3 separate regions of the Homo sapiens genome follow, and all the other regions are linked to region 1. Evidence: fine-mapped expression QTL. A gene starts in region 1. Each other region holds a variant in brackets. All regions are shown on one strand. Distances are between the middles of the regions.

Region 1 (5,227 bases):
CCAGCCTCCGTGCATAACCCTGTATGTTTTGCCTACCACCGAGGACCACACTTAAATAGGTTGTGCAAACCAAAGCAAACTGCTCATGGAGGAAATATAAGAAATGACTGTACAGTACAAGAGTATTACTGACTATTTAACCCAGAGGTACTTTTTAAGGAGAAGGGAAAAGAACAATGAGAGAATGGAAAAACAAATTTAGAACTATACGTTACCATTAACTGTTTCTGGCATAAAAATCTCTTTTGATTGCATTTTAGTGGGGATTCACACTCCAGATGCACCAAATTTAGCTTCAGCATCAGTATTTGACCAACATCAGACAGTCGGCTTTGGCCTTTAAAAACTAAATAAGGAATGCTAACTTCAAAAACACTTTTGGCAGCCCTGAACCTGTAACTGATGAGTATGGGATGACAGAGGTCACCATTGCATCTAATCAGGGTTAAAGGCAATCATACACAAGCCAGGTCCTTCAGATTTATTTTGGTATGTAAACGTTTGCTTTCAAATATTTGTAAGCATTCTAGATGGAACAGAGTGAAATGCCCCTTATGTGCTTAAAAATGTAAATTTTGGCTGGGCGCGGTGGCTCACGTCGGTAATCCCAGCACTTTGGGAGGCCAAGGCGGGTGGCTCACGAGGTCAGGAGTTCAAGACCAGCCTGGCCAAGATGGTGAAACCCCATCTCTACTAAAAATACAAAAATTAGCCGGGCGTGGTGGCAGGTGCCTGTAATCCCAGCTACTCAGGAGGCTGAGGCAGAGAAGTGCTTGAACCCAGGAGGTGGAGGCTGCAGTGAGCGGAGATCATGCCACTGCACCCCAGCCTGGACGACAGAGCAAGACTCCATCTCAAAAAAAAAAAAGGTAAATTTTATCAGTCGGTATTACAAAAGTAAAAAGCTACAGTAATTAGGGTGAAAGCTGTCAATTTTACCTATTAAAATAAGTAAGAATATTTAATTCAATAAGCACAGTGAACATCAATATCGAAAGACAATTTTCGGTGGTACACTATAGTCGGGTGTGGTGGCTCATGCCTGTAATCCCAGAACTTTGGGAGGCCAATGCGGGAGGACTGCTTGAGGCCAGGATTTGAGATCAGCCTGGGCAACACAGCAAGACTTTGTCTCTGAAAAAAAAAACTTTAGCCAGGATTAGCGGGGCGTGCCTACAGTCCCAGTTATAGGCTCACAGCAGGGGAGGATCTCTTGAGCTCAGGAGATCAAGGTTGCTGTGAACTGTGTGATCAGGCCACTGTACTTCGGCCTCTGCCACAGAGCAAGACCCCAACCCCCAAACACAAAGTGAAACATATCTCTGGGCGTAAATAAATGTTCACCAAAAATTAAATAATTATGCTAAAATAACAGTTTAGATTTTAATTTTAATCTTTTTATAGTTTCCATTATTATCTTGTTAGGATGAAAAGTAGACTGTCAACTCTGCCACCCCAAAATTTCACATGAAGGAAAAACTCCAAAATTCATGTATGACATCCAACCTAAGTAATTTCAATCCAGTAATAATAAAGAACAGAGAAGGATGAAAAGAAAGTATTGGAGAAAAATTAAGTATTCCCAAATTGCTCCTCCACCAACATCATTTAAAAGTATGCATCCACTGAGTAATGCAAATGTGTAGAATACCAGAGAAGCCATCTAGCAGCAACAACACAGGCACTGTAATTTTAAACGTTTATATTTGCTTCCTATATTTTTGAAAAATAAAGTTGTAATAACAACGTTTTGAAAATTTCCAAACTCTTCCTTGTATCCCAGAGGTTCCTTTTTTGCTCTTTGGCTTTGGCTTTGACTGGATACTGATTTTACCCTTGGCCATTCTGCACCTAACCTGACTGTGCACTAGGTCCCCTGCCATAACCTGGATGAAGGTCTGGCTGAGCGTCTCTGGGATCCTTTACAGCCCCTCTAATGCATCAGTCGGGAATCAAAAGCGTGGGTCCCAACTCTGACAGTGACTTTTGAAGAGTTACTTGTCCGCACTAGGTCTCAGTCTTCTCATCTGTCAAATGGGAATAACAACTGTACCTATCTCACATCTGTTGTAAGGATTAGATAATATATTTAGAGAGCTTAAAATGTTTAAAATGTCCGCTACTGCTATCATCACTATAATTGTAGTGTTCAATGACTGTGATTTCACCAGAGGGTCCGTCTGCCTTACGAAATTGCTGTCAAAAGAGCTTACCAATAATCCGTAGCAGATCACACCAGCTCAACAGGCCTCCACCTCCAGGAAGCCCTCCAGGGGCGGGCCGCCCTGCGCTATGCCCTCTGGCTGGACGCGTAGGGCTCCGGCTCACTCCGCCCAAGTCAGCCTCCCGCATCCCGCACGCCCGCGCTGGGGCCCGCACCTGCTCAGCAGGCCCTTGGGTGCGAAGTGCGCTTCTCCCGCCCCACCCAGGGCAGACAGTCCCGAGCAACGGCGCCCGCCGATGTCTCCCGGGCGCCCAGGAGGCCCGGTCTCTCCAGGGCGGTGAGTTCAGGTGGCCCGCCCCGCCCCGGCCGGAGAAACCCCGAAGCCCCGCCGCCGCGGACTCCAGGCTGCACAGGCCCCCGGGCGACGCGGGCGTCTCCGGGGCGGGCTGGCAGCCCGAGGCCAGGAGAGCACCCGCGTGTTGGCCTGGACGCTGTGCTAGGGCAGCTCTTACTGTTTCACGTTGTCCCCCAGGGCCTCGCTTAAGTTCTTCTTGGCCGCCTCCAGCTCGCTCACAAAGGTCGCCATTGCTCCGCGTGTCTCAGCCCGACCGCAGACCGCCCGGCCACCGCGATCAACAACCCAAAAACCAACTCGGCGGAAGGCCTTGGCTCTGGAAGCTAAGCCGGCCGCCGTCAGTCCCGCCCCCAATCTCTCAGAAGTCGTTTGTTTGGTTTTCGGCTCCGCCCGCCTTTTCGCAGGGAAGGTGCCCGGCCAAACTCTGCTCTCTTCCTCCCGCCCCTCGAGTCACGTGATCCGCTTCACCTTGTCGCGCGCCCATCCTAAACCCGCGCGCCCCGCCTCGGCTGCAACGTTGCTGACAGGCTGGCGTGTCCCAAGCTCTTTCATTCTGTTACCGCTGGGGCAATTCCGAATTCAGCCTGCTGTTCTTCTGCCTGGAGGAGTACCTTACCCCTCCATTTAAAAAAGTAAATGCAGTATCAGTTTTACTCTTTCCTTGCCTTATTTTTCCCCGAGCACTAACCGTCTCATATGACATTTAGTTGATTTATCTTGTAAATGTTATGGCTCGAGGACAGGAGTTGTGTTTTATTCACTGTTACCCGCAATTCTCTAGAGCAGCGCCTGGCACATAGTGGATGCTTAATAAGTATTTGAGTAAATGAGGTAACTATGTAAAATTTGGAAAATACACAGAAAGATAAAGATAAAAAGAAGGAAAAAGTGTTTTACCACTCCCGGACAAACACTTAACTGAGAGAGATTTCTCCTTCACTTCGCACACTCCCATGACTTAAAATATTCTATGTTCAATTTTGCACGTTTTTAAACTTAAGGATTTATCTGTAGTATTACATTGTCTTTAGAATAATTTTAATGACAACATATTAAATACCCCCACAGATAGAAGGTACACAACTTGTTTCCCAATTGTTAGACTGTGTCCATTTCTTCTCTATTAAAAAGCAATACTGTAATATTGCTTTTGAAGCATATAGCATAATGAAGCAAAACTTCTTTATGCATAAAACTTTTCCTCCTTTAGGATTATTACTTTAGCATAGAGTCCCACACATAGAATTACTGGATCAAATGATGGGAATATTTATAAATGCCTTGGTGTATATTGTCAAATTGCCTCCCAAAGTTTTTTAAATAATCCTAGATAGCTTTTAGATCTTGTGTAATTTCTCCAAAGATGTCCCCTTAAGTTCATTCATTCAACTTCCTCACTGCCCAACCTAAACCCACAAGCCCTGTCCTGGCTGCAATGCCAGCCGGGCACCTTCTCTTCACTTGAATTCATACAGTGAGCTCCTATTATGTGTCTGGAACTCTTTGAGTACTGGAGATACACAGGTGAAAGGAGATACAAAGGTCAGGCAAAGTCTTCCTCTCTGTGTCAAAACTCTGGGTAAGTTTTGACACATTTAAAAAATATCCACTTAAGTTTTCCATGGCTCCCCACGCTCTGCTGAACAAATTCCAGACTCCAGCATTCAAATGTTCTCATGATCTGAACTCACCCTACCTGTGTACCTCACACACCACTGGCCTTCCCACATAACCCCACACTTGGACTCAGCATTCTAGTTAACTTGACTTTAACAAATCACATGGCTCTTCCCCTTTACGCATATCTCCTCTCTGCTGGTTTTGAGACTTATGGTTGGCTACCTCCATTTTTTTTGAATCAGGTTCAAACATATATATGAATCTATTCAAGGATCAAGTCAACAGGACTAGGAAAGGCTACAGATAGTTGGGTACATCTTCCAGGAAGAATCCCTGTTTCTCATTTGTCTCTAGCCACGAAGAAAGATAGGCCTCAAAGATTTTCTTTTTGAACCCATGCTTGACAATACTCATACGTCTAGCTCAATTAAATATCCCTTTCTCTCTCAGCACTTATACACCTATTAACACTAATTTTACTACAGTTTTTCAGTTAAATGTCCATTTAAACTGTAATGTTAGACAATATAATATACATAAATGGACATCTGACCAAACAATTTAATATTGAGAGGTGAAGCCGCCTGGGCTTCTGGGCTGGGTGGGGACTTGGAGAACTTTTCTGACTAAAGGATTGTAAACGCACCAATCAGCGCTCTGTGTCTAGCTAAAGGTTTGTAAACGCACCAATCAGCACTCTGTAAAAACACACCAATCAGCGTTCTGTGTCTAGCTAAAGGTTTGTAAACGCACCAGTCAGCACTCTGTAAAAACACACCAATCAGCATTCTGTGTCTAGCTAAAGGTTTGTAAACGCACCAGTCAGCACTCTGTAAAAACGCACCAATCAGCGCTCTGTGTCTAGCTAAAGGTTTGTAAACGCACCAGTCAGCACTCTGTAAAAACGCACCAATCAGCGCTCTGTGTCTAGCTAAAGGTTTGTAAACGCACCAGTCAGCACTCTGTAAAAACGCACCAATCAGCGCTCTGTGTCTAGCTAAAGGTTTGTAAACACACCAGTCAGCACTCTGTAAAAACGAACCAATCAGCGCTCTGTGTCTAGCTAAAGGTTTGTAAATGCACCAATC
Region 2 (5,227 bases), 29 kb before region 1:
ATGGCCCCTCTGAAATGACAGGCATAGACAGTCCTGTTCCCATTTTATCAGCAAAGGGAAAGGGACTATAAATAGGTATGACCTAGATCTGGAACTTCCCAGGGAGAAAAAAAGGCCAAAGAGACAGTTCTTTAAAAGCCTGGGAATTGGGAAAGGAGTAGGGTGGAAAATTCCTGGGCTGACTGGCTTTCCAGGGTGAGGAAGTCTGAGGAAAGCCTGAAGACGAATCCATTTTACCTCCTCATATTTCACACTTAGGGATGTTTGTCCATTCTTACTCCAAAGAGTAGGTTTGGTTTTATGACAGATAAAATTTAATGATTCTTTGAAACAGTTCCAAGTAGAACAAGAGAAGGGAAATCCAGAGATTTGCCTAGATCGTATATTCAAAAGCACATTTTTCAGTGACTACTAGCTACAGGAAGTGTCCTCGGCTTAGGGAAGCAAAAAGGAGTAAGTACAGGTCCTGCTTTCAACAAGCTCAGATTCTAGTGGAGGGAGCAGACAAGTCAACCAAAAGAATTCTGCAGTGTGATGAGTGCCCCGGGAGTGTGGAGCCCAGGACATTTCAGGGACATGTGGGTGTGCTCACAGCGTGGCACAGAGTGGGCTTCCTCGGGAGCAGGGATTTTGGGCTGAGTCCTGGAAGATGGGTGGGTGTCAGCCAGACCAAGAAAGGGGAGGCCCTCCAAGGCCAGGGGAGAATATGGGCCAAGGTGTGGGGGCGTTGGGGAATGGTTGTTCAGGGAACTGCACACAGCTGAGTACAAGTGGAGCACAGAGCTGGGGAGAGTTGAGGGTTAGTCATCAGGGAGGCAGCTGTGCTCGGTATTGCTGGATCCTTGGGGTCAGGCGGTGGTGGCCCCAAAACGCAACCCCACCATTTATTGGCTATGACATTAGCCTGGAAATGAGACCTCTCCAAGCCCATATTCTCCTTGATTAAGTAGGGGCATGGTGGCTTGTGCCTCTAATCCCAGCTACTAGGGAGGCTGAGGCAGGAGAATGGCTTGAACTCAGGAGGCAGAGGTTGCAGTGAGCCAAGATCGTGCCACTGCACTCCAGCCTGGGCAACAGAGCAAGACTCCATCTCAAAAAAAAAAAAAAAAAATAGGCGTATCTACTCCTCCACAGGCCCATTGCAGGGAATAAATGAAGCAGTTACAGGCCCTTTCCTAGTACGTGCTTCCTATGTATGAGGTGCTGTGGAGGTGGGGAGAGAACAAGGGGGCTTCCTTGGGTCAGGGAGGAAAGGCCAATGTATGTAAGTGACTGTTGGCCTGACCCCTGAAGTGGCTGCAGGCTATATAGCATATGGACACTAATTTTCTAAGCTAAGGAAAAACAGTATCATAATCACCCAGACCCAAGATACAGCTTTGGGAAATAGCTTTGAAGGCAAGAATACAAAATAACCAGCCTGAAACAAGCCATCCAGTGCCTTCTTATCACTAAATAGGATGAGCTTTGGAGTAGGATTTTTAATGACTGTAATAAGAAATACAGTTAAAAACAAAAAGAGGAGGTTGGTTTGGGTGGCTTGGCTGCCTTGGGCTACTGAGGAGCCCCCTGGTGCTGGGCCAGGAAGCAGAGGAACAGGGGAGGGATGCAGTCCTTTGGGCTTTCTGCCTACCTGGTCCAGGATCAAAGTGAATGAGTTTGCTCTGGCATCTCATTACATATATTAAGCTGTAATTAGCCCTTCTTTCTTCCTCTTCATGCTCTTGTGGATTGGAAAGGCCAAATAGGGCCCCTTCTCTCAGTGGCTCCTCCCTGGGCAGCTGTGGGTTCCAAGTCTAACACTTTGGTTAGTACCCTTGGAAATGCAGTGCCCTGGAAACCCACAAAGATCCCACGGAGGGCAGTGATCCTATTCAGATTTACAAACCCAACTCACCCCGCCCGGGGCCGAGGGTCTTTTTCTGGGGTGGGAGGGAATTGGGGGTGCTTGTGTTGGTGGGACACTTTGTCTGGGTGTGGGTGGCTTAAGTCTTGGGTCAGAGGTGAGCCGTGAGCAGCTCTCACCACAGTGCATGAGGGTGCGATGTCCCATGTCCTCCAACCGGTGATCATGGTAGGGAGTTAGTTTTCTTCTCAAAGTGCTGCTTACCTTATCTGAACTGAGGGTGGCAGCTGCTGTGGTGGGCACAGAAGGACTGTGCTCTTGCCCTTGTTGGCTTCCAGCAGCTGTATGAATGTGGACAGTCCGTTTTCCCCTGGGTCAGGGTCCCTCACCTGACCTGTGAGAGGACAGGCTGTGCTGGGCTGTCTGTAAGGTCCTGTCCGCTCTGAAAGTCTGTCTGCATATGCCTGTTTGTCATTGTGAAAGGGCTGTTCACTCTTCCAGGTACCGGCCCTATTTGATGAGGTGGCCATATATTTTTCCGATGAGGAATGGGAAGTTTTGACGGAGCAACAAAAGGCCCTCTACCGGGAAGTCATGAGGATGAATTATGAAACTGTCCTGTCCCTGGGTAAAGCTGTGTTTTCCTTTGTCTCCTGGAAGCTCTGAGCCCAGAGAATTGTTTCCATGCCTCTCTTCTCTGGTATATCCAATGTCCCTCTCTCCTGAACTTAGACTCTGCCTCCTCAATGTCTGTGCCCAT[T/A]TATTCCAATTTTTGATTTGGGCAGTATATCAATATTGTGTCACCCTACTCGGCAATCCGTGCTGCCTCAGAACTGCCCCCATTCAACCCAGGCATTCACATTTAAGGATAAAAACCATGTAACCTTAGAAATGTCACCATGGATCTGGGCCTGTGCCTCACTGTTCCTTACGAGAGAAGGCAGGCGTTAATGTTACCCTGTCAGCCTCAGAAGTTTGGGGACATACCCTCCCAAAGACTGTTTGCTCCTCTCCCCAACTTCCACCCCAAATTGATATCACACATCTTATCAGCAGAATGTAATCATTTGAAGAGATTTCCCAGTTTGCTTATACAGGTACCAAAATGTTAATTGGATCAGCAGCTGCATTCACCCTTCTCCCTGCTAAATGCAGTTCTTTTATTGTTGGTGCCAATACCATCCCTCATTAGGAGAGATCTACCCATTCCTTTAGACAGACCTATTTTCCATTATCTTTTTTCTTTAAGTATCCCTGAGCCTTTTTCCCCTTGTTTTTCACAAAGAAGGGGAGAGTGGCTCTTAAGTATTTTGAAGTACTTATTTTGGTAGTGCTCCAGGACAGTAACACACAGCTGTTACCTATTTTATTTCCTATAAACAGAATTCCCATTCCCTAAGCCAGACATGATCACCCGTTTGGAAGGGGAGGAGGAGTCTCAGAATTCTGACGAGTGGCAGCTCCAAGGAGGCACCTCTGCAGGTACTACAAGTAAAGCAGTTCAGCGTCCATCCAGCTGGGAACATTGTGGAGTGGGATTTTCAGTGTACATTCCACGGGGTATTTAAGAGGTAGAAGGATTATGGGTTTTGGAGTTTTGAAATCTCCCTCTTTGCAGTGCTAAATGTGTGACAGTGTGTGACAGGCAACTGCTTTTACCTCAGAGCTTCCATTCTTCCTCTATCAGCTCTGAGTAACAAGACTTGATGTATGACCTTGTTTGTGGATGAAGCAAAATGAGGCTTGTGCAGCATTTGGTCTAGTGCACCTTCTGGCTGAACAGGGCTCCCTCAGTGGCGTACCATGTGCCTCTGCAAACTAAGAATAGTGAGAGGAAGCACACTTCCTGAGTTACCTGGCTCCCTGTCCATCTCATACTGGATAGAAAAAGCAATAGCAATCATAGCATACATTTGAGCAAATGTATCTAAGAAGTACCTAGTCCTTTGTCAAGAAAAATGGTTATTGAGGCCACAGTTGAATAAATATAGCATTGCCTCCAGACGGCCAAAATAGTTTTATCTTTTCTCCGGAAGTAAGAGTTTAAAATGCCATATTTCACTGACTCTGAGACATGTTTTTCTCCCATTGCTTTACTGTTTCTGAAATTGAGAATGCCTCTTAAAATCAGTGGCATGTCATAGCTTAATTAGTAGTGTTTTCTTTCTTAATGGCACATAATGATGCATCCTACAACTGATGACATTTTAGTTTGGGTGAGATAGGGTAATTTCCCCAAATCATATTCAACTTCTGTGACCACCTTCTAAATATAAAGTGAAACCTGGTTGCACCATTAATGTGCAAGAACTAATTTTCTGCCTTATAAGCTTAACTTTGCTAAGTGTGGTTTTTGCTGTAGGTTTTCTTGGTTCTAAAGGGATATGATTCAGGCCATGATGCATCTCTGTAATATTATATGGTAGTATGGTTAACATTTGGCTTCTCATTCACATAAAAAGTATTTTGATGCAAACATGGCCCCCAAATTATTTGGTCCAAGCTTGGTTCCTCTGTTGAGTTCCCAGCTCTGCCACTTTCTGGCTTGGCTACCTTGGTGCATTATGTAACCTCTGTAGCCTCCCCTTCTTCATCTGCAAAGAAGGAACAGTGATACTTAGAGTTACTCTATTAAGAGAACTAGGTGTGGGTAGTCCACATAAATTGGCATATGGAAAAGGACTTAGGCAATGTTACCTGTTATTAAAGTTACTACTTTTGGTGAACTTCAGATTAAGGTATTCTTAGCATTTCAACCCCCAAAAATCAGGGTATAAGCCATTTTACTTACTGGCATTATTTTTGCCCCTCACTATTTGTCTCCCAGAAAATGAAGAATCTGACGTAAAGCCTCCAGACTGGCCAAACCCAATGAATGCTACCTCCCAGTTTCCTCAGCCTCAGCACTTTGACAGCTTTGGCCTCCGTCTGCCTCGGGATATCACAGAGCTGCCCGAGTGGAGTGAGGGGTACCCCTTCTACATGGCCATGGGCTTCCCAGGGTATGACCTCTCGGCTGATGACATAGCTGGGAAGTTTCAGTTCAGCCGGGGCATGCGCCGCAGTTACGACGCAGGGTTCAAGCTGATGGTAGTGGAATATGCTGAGAGTACCAACAACTGCCAGGCTGCCAAGCAGTTTGGAGTATTGGAAAAAAACGTTCGAGACTGGCGCAAAGTGAAGCCACAGCTTCAAAACGCCCACGCCATGCGGCGGGCATTCCGAGGCCCCAAGAATGGGAGGTTTGCTCTGGTGGACCAGCGTGTGGCCGAATATGTCAGATACATGCAGGCCAAAGGGGACCCCATCACCCGGGAGGCGATGCAGCTGAAAGCTCTCGAAATCGCCCAGGAAATGAACATTCCAGAGAAAGGGTTCAAG
Region 3 (5,227 bases), 80 kb before region 1:
TCTTTTTTTTTTTTTTTGAGACCAAGTCTCACTGTCACCCAGGCTGGAATGTAGTTGCACATCTCAGCTCACTGCAGCCTCCATCTCCCAGGTTCAAGTGATTCTCCTGCCTCAGGCTTCCGAGTGGCTGGAATTACAGGTGATCACCACCACACCCGGCTAATTTTTTGTATTTTTAGTAGAGACGGGGTTTCGCCATGTTGACTAGGCTGGTCTCGAACTCCTGACCTCAGGTGATCCACCCACCTCAGCCTCCCAAAGTGCTGGGATTACAGACATGAGCTACCATGCCCGGCCCAGAAGTCCTAATTTGATCAACCAATTAATTGAAGAAGATCCCATGCTTTCTTTTTTCAAGTGGGATATTTTATAGCCTAAACTGAACCTCTTGAAGCTGTAAGTATTCCCAAGAGCTGATCACAAACTGAAAGACCTCTTTTTACCTTCTCGTTACTGTCTCACACAAAATTAAGGTCAAAAAAGCATATTTCTAAAAGTCTCAGCCATTCATTCAATGAATATATTCAAGTACCTACTATGTGCTAGACACTGGAATCATAGAAGAAAACAAGACAAAACTAGTCCATGTCTCTACAGTTTAAATCTAGCCTCTAGGGATTCCCCACTGTGCAAGTGACAATTTTTCTAGTATTGACAAGATTTTACATCCAATCCACATCCTAATGAGAATTGTGATTTGAATCCATCATCTTTGTGAACACAAAGGCAATTAAAGAACGGGTCCTACTTTTGGGAATTCAGTCAGTGCACTCTGGTGAGTGGGTGAGAAAAAGCTGGGAGGGGAGGCTGAAGTCCAGGCTTGAAGAGAATGGTTCAAAAGTTAGATTGTGGTGAGGGCAAGAGCGCATCACTGAAGCTTTGGGGCAGGGAGATGACATAATCAGAAGTATTTTGATAAAATAACTTTCAGCAGAAAGAAGAATGAACTGACACAGGGAGAAACAAGCTAAAGGTTCTGCAGGGTTCCTACACTGAGCCAACTTTGAGAACTTGGGGCTTGTTAGTTTTGTTCTTACTCATACCTAACATTTGCTTTTTCTCTTTTTTCTTCCTCTACTTCTTGCCCTCGTTTGCCTGCTTCTATCAAATTTCCCTACTTAACAACTCTGCCTGTTTTCCCTTCCTTATGATTTATACAGTAATTACTATATATAACTTTTAATATATTTGATATATTTTCTATCTGGCCCCGAAATTAATACTCCGTACAGTTTCCCAACAATAACAAAATAACCTAAAAGTCTATGTTAGAATAACTGCATCTTAGGGACCTAGATACTTGGAATATTTTCCTGTTTATAATCAATATATAATTTTATCATATACATTTAATATTTCTTCATTTCTATAAAAAGACATTCAAAATTCTAAAAATAATCAGTATCACTCTAATTCCTCTCTTAAGCAAATTCAATAAAGATTACCAAATGTTCTTGTGATACAAATTGCAACAATCATCCCAAGGATTTGCTTTTCATTCAGAAAATGTCCAGTGAATTTCCTGAGTTTCAGACACGGTCTTCTCTATCTCTGTTGTGTATCAGCAACTCCATTTCCCAATGTTAACTGAGAGCAGTCACCCCAGCCAATACAGTAATCCTCTTCTCCGCTTGTTGGTTTAGTGGCATAAGAACCCCAAATTGTTTGATGTTGGATGTTCAATTGTTATGGGACCATTGCTGTATCCTTCTAACTATCTATACTGTGTAACAAATCACCCCCAAAACTTAGTAGCTTAAACCACCATGGTTTATTATTTCTTACAAGTCTATAGGATAGGAATTCAGGCAGGCCTCAGCTGAAGCATTCTTTCTTCATATGGCAACAGGTGGGATAACTCAGCTGCATTCACCTGGTGGCTAGCTGGGCTGGAATATCCAAGAAGGTTTTACTCACATGTCTGATTCCTTGGTGTTTCTCCACATAATTTATCTCACTCTCTTTCTCCACATAGTTTCTCATTATTCAATAGTCCAATCTTCCTTATAATATGCTATCTTCCTCCAAAGAAAAAAACTGATACTGCCAGTTGTCTGGGTTTGAAAGTCCCAGAACATCACTTCTGCCACATTCTATTGCCTGCCCTCCACTCCCACCCCCAGTGTGGATGACCTTCATCCAATCCACTGAAGGACCAAATAGAACAAAAAAGTGTAGTAAGGGAGAATTTACTCTCATCTCTCTGGTTGTCTTTGAGCTGGGACATTGGTGTTCTCCTGTCATCAGACTCAGACCAAAACTTAGAAACACCACTGGCACTCCTGGTGCTCTGGCCTTCAAACTCAAACTAGAACTATACCATAGGTTCTTCTGGGTCTCCAGTTTACTAGCTACAGATTGTGGGACTT[C/T]TCAGTCTCCATAACTTCATGAGCCAATTACTTATAATCTCTCTCTCTCTCTCTTCCTCCCTCCATCTATATATCTAATGATTGGACCCACGTACTCCAGGCCCATGAAAGAAACAACTTTATATATCAATAAATATATAGATATGTAGATATTTCCTTTAGTTCTATTTCTCTGGAGAACTCAAACCAGTATAGATTTTGGTACTAAGAATGATTCCAGAGGAAGAAATTTAAGAATGTTTTTTCTGAGAATATGTTTTCTGAATTGGTTCTAGAGTTTCTGGAATTGGCGCTGTAATTCAATTAGATTTTAAAATGCTAATGGGTCCATCTTACCCTGTCCCTTCCCATCAGCCATGAGTTCCACGCAGTTCAACAAGGGGCCTTCTTACCAGCTTTTTGCCGAGATCAAGAACCAGCTCCTGTTCAAATGCGACCCTCAGAAGCAGGCGGCGCTCTGCAGCTGGATCGAGGGACTCACCCGCCTCTCTTTCAGCCCCGACTTCCAGAAGAGTCTGAAGGAAGGGATTGTCTTATGCACACTCATGAACAAGCTGGGCTCAGTCCCCAAGATCAACGGCTCATGCAGAACTGGCACCAGCTAGAAAATCTCTCCAACTTCATCAAGGCCATGGTTGGATACGACATGAACCCCATGGACCTGTTCGAGGCCAACGACCTGTTTGAGAGTAGGAACATGACGCAGGTGCAGCTGTCTCTTCTAGCCCTGGCAGGGAAGGTCAAGACAAAGCTGCTGCAGAATGGGGTGGACGTCGGGGTCAAATACTCGGAGAAGCAGGAGCGGAACTTCGACGACGCCACCTTGAAGGCCAGCCAGTGCCTCACTGAGCTGCAGATGGGCACCAACATATGTGCCTGCCAGTCGGGCGCGACAACTTAGGGCACGATGAGGCATCTCTACCACCCCAAGAACCGTATCCTGCCCTCTGGACCACTCGACCATCAGCCTCCAGATGGGTGCAAACAAACGCTCCAGCCAGGGGGCATGACGGCTCCCGGGACCCCGCAGCACATCTACAACACCAAACTGGGAGCCCACAAGTGTGACAACTCCTCCATGTCCCTGCATATGGGTGACACGCAGAGTGCCAACCACAGCGTCCAGGGCTTTGGCCTGGGCCAGCAGATATACTATCCCAAGTACTGCCCTCAAGGCCTGCAGCCAGTGGGGCTCCCTTGGATGCCGGCAACTGCCCAGGACCAGGGGAGGCCCCCGAGGATCCCCCCTGCTCCCAGGAGGAGGCCACTACTGAGGCCCCCGAACATGCTGGCTCCCTACATCATCGCCCTGTCTGGGTTTGGGGGATTTTCCTGTATTTTCGTCTTTCTTTTTTTTTTTTAACCTGTTCAGTGCTGCCAACCGAGGGTCTGTGAGTAGCTGCGTGGGGTCAAGCAGCAGGGTTATTTTTGTTTGTTTGTTTTAATTTTTTTTTCCCTCCTGCCTTAATTCCTTCACAGGACTGAGACACCGGGCTTGGGAGGAAGGGGTCAAGGCTGTATCTGGATGAATGTGAAGTGGGGGTCGTTGCCAGGGCACATTCAGGCTGTGGGCTGAGCGGTGCAGGGGAGAAGAGGTCTGGGCAGCGAGGGGAGCCGGCAGCAGGAGGTTTCCGGTTGCTTCTCCTTTTCCCTTTTGTCCACCTATCAGTTTGTGGTTTCTGTACCTACAGAAGTTTCAGAAGTATTAACAAAAGAAAAATATTTCTTTTTTCCTAGGGAATGGGGCGGGGACAGTGGAGAGGGTGCTGGGAAATGGGTGCCCTGGGAGAAGGCCAAGGCCAGGATGCTAAAATATCTTAGGCTCATGAGTGACTGGATTTCCCTAGGACCCTCAGACCTGCACAGGGGCCGGGTGGGGAAACAGGCTTATGCAAGACAATGGGGTAGTGAGTCAATTGGGGCTAAGCCTGACCCCTCCCCATGCTCACCAACCCCCCCATTTGTGTCCCTCATCAGATTTTAAGGAGCCCCCAGCCCTCCTTCTCCCCTTCTGGGACTAACCAACTGCAAGGCTCCGTCTCCCCCCACCACAAGCCCTGCCAAGTACTGCTCAGGGGCCCCAGCCAAGAGCCCTGCACCCTTAAATAATGTGAAATACCAACTGTGGACCAAATGCAATAGAAACCTCTGTTTTTAGGAAGAAATAAGAATAGTAACTATTATTAATAAATAAATAAAAACAAAAATGCCAATGACTCTATTTCTAGGAGTAAAGAGAACACTGATAATCCATGGTATGATCTAGCAATAGAAATTTGCAAAATATCTCCATCGGATACTCCTAATCGACCACTTACAAAAAGCAAGGAGTTAGGTGACTGTGTATGTAAAACTTTCAAACATGTTTGCAAAACTAATAAATATATGAAGTTGGTTGGTTGCTCCTAATGTCTGTGGACAAAGTGGTCACAAAAAAAGAGACACTCAGGAATTGTAATTCCTCAAGTACCTCGTAAATGACCTGAAATCTCCTATGTGTTTCCTGAAGAAAACTTTTATCTCCTGTAACCATAGGACTGAGATTGCTAATAATAAAAATGACAATTCAGAATTCCTTTTAGTTACACAATTTTCGGAGGTTCCTGCATGCTGTCTCTGCATTCTAGGACAAACCTAAATCTTCTAGAGAAGCATCTGAAGACATGGACTCTTCTATAAAGAAGCTGAGGGGGAGGAAGTGATTGGTTTTCATCAGGAAGTTATAGGAATAAGACTCCCTCACCATGATTATTATTTAATCAAAAGTTTGCTATCCATCACTCTATGAGCTAACCACTCAGAACTTGTGGGCCCTTTTATACACACAATGGTGACTACCAAGCTCCTCCACCCCAATG

Direction of the effects. Positions count from the first base shown, and alleles are read on the strand shown. Sizes are in standard deviations (SD) of each study's normalised expression. Not every link is listed here.
For the expression in prefrontal cortex of the gene that starts at base 2,781 in region 1, allele C in region 3 goes with a higher level than allele T (moderate effect, 0.54 SD a copy in ROSMAP).

Evidence for each region. PIP is the estimated chance that this variant, and not a neighbour inherited with it, causes the effect. A credible set is the group of variants that fine-mapping cannot tell apart.
Region 2: its variant is the best candidate, but not a certain one, in a credible set for the expression of TADA1 in aorta (GTEx, PIP 0.76).
Region 3: its variant is the best candidate, but not a certain one, in a credible set for the expression of TADA1 in prefrontal cortex (ROSMAP, PIP 0.74).

Annotation. Positions count from the first base shown.
Region 1 is chr1:166,873,484-166,878,710 of GRCh38, forward strand. TADA1 (transcriptional adaptor 1) reads right to left here and starts at 2,781. Exons shown (of 8, transcript NM_053053.4): 1 at 2,677-2,781. The coding sequence starts at 2,750. RefSeq lists silencers at 2,238-2,637, 2,668-2,717 and an enhancer at 3,118-3,167.
Region 2 is chr1:166,844,265-166,849,491 of GRCh38, forward strand. POGK (pogo transposable element derived with KRAB domain) reads left to right here. Exons shown (of 6, transcript NM_017542.5): 3 at 2,348-2,474; 4 at 3,230-3,328; 5 at 4,674-5,227. Among named protein-coding and RNA genes, the nearest start is that of POGK, 7.4 kb to the left of the region's middle. The variant T/A (reference allele first, on the strand shown) is at 2,607.
Region 3 is chr1:166,793,541-166,798,767 of GRCh38, forward strand. It overlaps the pseudogene CNN2P10. Among named protein-coding and RNA genes, the nearest start is that of POGK, 43 kb to the right of the region's middle. The variant C/T (reference allele first, on the strand shown) is at 2,370.